2 separate regions of the Homo sapiens genome follow, and region 1 is linked to region 2. Evidence: fine-mapped expression QTL. Tissue or cell type: thyroid. Region 2 holds a variant in brackets; the other region holds the start of a gene. All regions are shown on one strand. Distances are from middle to middle.

Evidence for each region. PIP is the estimated chance that this variant, and not a neighbour inherited with it, causes the effect.
Region 1: PTK2B starts here. The variant in region 2 is fine-mapped to the expression of PTK2B in thyroid (GTEx, PIP 0.99).

The regions. Positions count from the first base shown.
Region 1 is chr8:27,324,603-27,327,226 of GRCh38, forward strand. PTK2B (protein tyrosine kinase 2 beta) reads left to right here and starts at 950. Exons shown (of 31, transcript NM_173176.3): 1 at 950-1,079. RefSeq lists enhancers at 995-1,144, 1,195-1,244, 1,850-2,624, 2,025-2,094.
Region 2 is chr8:27,444,382-27,446,881 of GRCh38, forward strand. It overlaps PTK2B (protein tyrosine kinase 2 beta), which reads left to right. Exons shown (of 31, transcript NM_173176.3): 24 at 1,413-1,538. Among named protein-coding and RNA genes, the nearest start is that of MIR6842, 12 kb to the left of the region's middle. The variant A/G (reference allele first, on the strand shown) is at 987.

The DNA.
Region 1 (2,624 bases), 120 kb before region 2:
GGCGCCATTCTCAGAAAGTACATTGTGAATAGCATCCTCTAGAATTGTGCAACAGGGCAGCTCTGGGAATCAGATTCCAATCCTGCACAGGACACAGAATAAAGAAGCTTGGGACAGGGGCTCTGGAGAGGACATTGTAGGATGAGGATGATGCTGCGTACACTCCACTTTTTTCACTTTATGCCAAGTCCAGGTCACTTCCTCCTCCTACTCAGGAGCAAGTCTGGAGTTTTCCTAGGGATAGGGAAGAAGTGTTGCTAAGTGCCCTTGAGTGCCTGCTCACATATCACCGGCCTGAGGAAAGAGGGGACCAGCCTCTGGGCGGGGCCCCTGGAAGGGGCTGTCCAGCATCTCTAACTATTCTTGTGCTGTCCTCAGACCCTACTTAGTCACAGCTCAGGGACCTGGTCTTCTGTGTTCAGGGACCTGGACCGGTTCTGCCAAAATCCCTAGTGGTATTTATGATTTTTCATGCCTGCAAAGGGACTGGGGCCACTTTAGGACATGGAGAGATTAGGACACAAGTGCTCAGTACCATGTAGATATAACATCTCCCACTGCGGGGGGTCTTGGGAGAACCAGCCTGAGAAGTTGGTTTCCTCCGCCCGCCCTGCGCCCCCACCCACCTCACACACACCTTTTGGCCTCCAAAAGGCTGCAGGTGGAGTGGACAGAGGATGGAGGGGTGTTAGGAATTGGGGAGTTAACTGCTCACAAGGGGCACATAACATCCGAGGATCCCATTTGCGGCCGGGGGAATGGCAGAGATCGCCCCCCAGGTCTGCCCGGCGCTCAGGGAATTGGTGGCAGCGTCTATTTCAGAGTTTATGGTAAGAGGCTGGAGCCGGCACACACAGACAACACACCCCACCCTTTAAGGAAGTGGGGAGGAGAGCAGCAGGGGTGTGGTTAACAACTCAGAGGAGGAGGGAGAATCTAACCTGTCAGCCCTTTTACTCAGCCACAGCCTCCGGAGCCGTTGCACACCTACCTGCCCGGCCGACTTACCTGTACTTGCCGCCGTCCCGGCTCACCTGGCGGTGCCCGAGGAGTAGTCGCTGGAGTCCGCGCCTCCCTGGGTGAGTCCCTCCCGCGAGCCAGGGCTGAGCGCTGCGCCCGGCAGAAGTTGGAGGCTTGACCGGGTGGCAGGGGTTGGGGACAATTCCGGGATCCTGGGCACCTGAGCTGGGAGTTCCCGGAGAAACGGCCAGACCCAGGAAATCGGAGCCGTGGGTGCTGTGCACATGCCCGGAGCTCGCCAGCCTTCCGCGGGGAAGAGGGGTTCTATTTTTGGAGTAAATTTGACACTATAGGGTGTTTCTCCCTCTTTGTCCTCTCAACATATTCAGACAGGGGAGGCTGGGGGAGGCTAGGGGTGACGGTGTGAGGGCACAGCCAGGCTGCTGCCTCTAAAGCTCAGGTTAGGGAGCCACGGGGTTTCAGCTCCTGCCCCCGCTCCCCGCTCCCTCCCGGGCCCTTCCGCAGCCCCAGGGGTTATAGTCTCACCCCCAGCCCACCCTGACTCTCCTGCAGCCACTCCTTGCACCTGAGAGGTCATCTTCTGAATCAAGCCCTGGCTGGAGGAAAGCAAGGGTGTTCTGGGGCACAGGGGAGCTCGTGTGTATGTGTGTGTGTGTGTGTGTGTGTGTGTGTGTGTGTAGTTAACACTGGCCATTCTGGTATCTTGAGAAGCCGCCTCCTGAGTGCCACTCAAGGGTTAAGTTCAGAGCTGCCTCTGCCTGCTGTCAGGCTGCGCGTGGGCACCGCTTTGGGTGGGTGAGCGTGGAGCGGCATATGGGTGATGTTCTGCAAGCCCTGCCACCTGCCCTAAGCCTCGACCACATGACACTGGCATCTCCCTATACCCCAAACTGGGAGCAAAATCCAAGTCCGCTCATTTAAGGAGCCAGCAGAAGGACAAGAGCAGAAAGTTGTGCCTAGAGGTGGCTTTAGCCAGGAGGAACTCGGAAGCTGCGCTGTGGCTGGGTCTGAGCCCACTGGGGCAGTGCACGTGGTGTGATGTGGTGGTGGGTGCTGGGAGGCCCCTCTACGTGGGATGCTCTCTGTTCACCCCAAGTGCTGTTGCTGAAGGCCCTGTCTTTCCCAACCACTCTGGGGGAGGGGGAGGAGGACACTGATGAAAAAGTGACTAAAGACAGAAGGGAGGAAGGAAGTAGTCACACTGGAGAGCCCCAGCATTGGTGGGACAGTCTGCAGTCATCCATTCAGGAGGCACTCACTGGCTTCCCACCTGCGGCCAGGTGCAAGGTGTGGGGACAAGGTGAGTGTGGCATGGCCTCTGCTCACCAGGGCAGTGTGGGATACCGGGTGGTTGAGGGAGGGCTGCCAGGGGAAGGTGCAGGGTACTATCCAACCCTGCACTAGAGGGCTGTGGGGGGAGCCAGTCAGCAATGGCCAGGAGGGCGTCCTGGCAGAAGTGACTCCAAATTGAGAGCTGAAGGATGACTAGAAATTAGCACAAGAGAAGAGGGGAAAGAACAGCAAGTGCAGAGACTGGAGGCTAAAAGCAGCAGGAGGCTGGAAGCAGCGGGCGGCATCCAGGAAAATGAAAGTAGCTGGGCTTGTTGGGAACCTAGAGCGTGCAGGGGCGAGGGGAAGCTGCA
Region 2 (2,500 bases):
TGGCCTAGGTTGACTCTTCTTTGGCACCCAGAACAGAATGCAGACTCAGATCACAAGAATTAAAATGCAGTTCTCCCAGGCTGTGCTCAGCTAAGACCTGCCTTAAGCCCCATCCCTCTGTCTACATCATCTGCTGCTTTGTGTGCCTGCCTGCTGCTCTCTCCCCACATCTAAGGCCTCCCTGGCCTCCTTACCAGAAGGAATCCCAGGGAATATTTCCCAACAAATGGAGTAGCTCCATGGGACTCCCCAAAGAGGCCCCATCCAGAACCTGGGTGGCCATTGAAGAGACAGCAGGGTTTTACCTGAGCTTTCTCCCAGCTCCATTATCCCCAACCATGACTCTTTCCCAGGCTGTGCGTCCCTGACCCTGAATGTCTCTGTTCTGTGTCTCTCTTGCCTCTAGGAGAGAGGGAGTCCAGTCTCCTCTTATTTCTTCTCTTGCATCCCCCAGCTCAGAGCCACTGCTCAAAAATTGATCCCCTCAACCACCAGAAATAATGTCCATTTAGTTGGTGCCCTTTATAGAAAGGTGGTGTCCCATGGTCCTATATTTGTTCTCAAGGAAATGCCTGAGTGCCAAAACAAGACCATCTAAGGACTAATAGATAAATCCTCTTCACGTGAAGAGAAAGCCTGATTCAGAAGATGGAAAAATCGTTCTGAAAAAAAAGAGATATACCCATGTGCAATATTTAAAACAGGGAGTTAGGTAGGGTGGAACACACCTGTAGTCCCAGCTACTAAGGAGGGTGAGATGGGAGGATTCATTGAGCTCAGGAGTTTGAGACCAGCCTGGGCAATATAGTGAGACCCCATCTCTAAAAACAAATAGTAATACAATAAAATTGTGATATACTTATTTTTTAATTAAAAAAAATTCAAGGCAGGCATGGTGGCATGCATCCGTAGTCCCAGCTATGTGGGAGGCTGAGGCAAGAGGATTACTTGAGGCCAAGAGTTTAAGGCTGCAGTGAGCTGTGATC[A/G]TACCACTGCATCCCAGCCTGGGCAACAGAGCAAGAGCCTATCTGAATTTTTAAAAAACAATTCATACATATCTGTATAAATTGGTGTGTTAACCACATCAGTCAGTCTGTAATGCAACTGAAACAACTATTTTTTGAAGAGTCCTGAAGGAAGAGCCCTGGTCTCAGTGGGTCCGTAACCAGCATGGACCCCACTGTGTGCAGAGCATCTTGGGGGAATGTTGGATGAATGAGAGGCTGCACTGCTCCACCATCTCTCTCGGAGCAATGGAAGGCCCACGTTTTGTTCTTTATTAACTCCTGGAGAGCAAGCCCCATTCCCTGTGGTGCTCATGCATAGTTTCTTTGTGCTCGTGTTTGTAGCAGCTAATTGTCTACCTTCTCGCTTTGTCCCGTGCCTTGTGCTTCTTTGCTTTTCCTGAATAGGTTCCTGAGGGTCTGTGTGCCAGCTCTCCTACGCTCACCAGCCCTATGGAGTATCCATCTCCCGTTAACTCACTGCACACCCCACCTCTCCACCGGCACAATGTCTTCAAACGCCACAGCATGCGGGTAAGAGGGCTCTGCATGCTGGTCCCTGCCCGGACTGAGGAGGCTGCTGGAGGGAGGTGGCCGGGGACACTGGAAACCCCACGTCCTCAGCTCAGGAGGGCCCTTCCTGTTCCCATGCACCAGTCAGGCCACTGAGGTGGCACTCTGTGACTTCCTTCCCTTTGCAAACACATCAGAGGCTGGCAGCCACACCAGGCCCTGCTCTGGAGGACACCAGCTGGACCTAACCTGCCCTTGGCCATGCTGGTGCTATGGCTAGAGATGTACAAATCTCCCCCTCTCCTGAGCCCCAGGGGTAGGGGGATCTGTGGCAGCTTGGAGGCTCCTAGGCAGGGCACAGCACAGCTTAGTGGTGCTGGAGAGTATCCTTCCTAAATGATGGCTTTGGGTGTGAAATCTCTCCTCAGTCAAAGGAAAGGCTTTCTTGTGGCTGCTCCCCTTTCTGCTTTTGTTCAGGCTGCTGCTGGGTGAGAAGGAGTTTAGGGCTAGTGGGAATACAGCCTCATTAACTGGCTAGAGCAGGGACCTAAGCCACTTCCCTTGTCAGCTCTTTGTCACGGGGGGTTGTTAACTGCTGGTGAAGCCCGGAGTGCTTCATGGCTGGCTTCTGATTGTCAGGTCTTGTGTGAAAAAGACACTTTTGCTTATAACCAGATGCCCACTGGTCACCAACCACCTTCTTCCATACAAATGGCCCCTAGTGGTCAGTTGCCACGAACACTTGATCTATTTTACTAAACCAACTAAAACACTTATTTTAGCTCTAACTCTGCATGCATGCACAATATTTCAGGCTCACTAAACATGACTAAAATATTTTTTGAAAAAAATTAGATGTTTATCATAATATATTTGGAAGATGTAGGCAAGTATGCTGATATTACTTTCATGCCATTATGCTTAATTTAGTAGAATTTTGAAATGAGCATGATAACTTAGAATTCCAGACACTAAGATTTTTT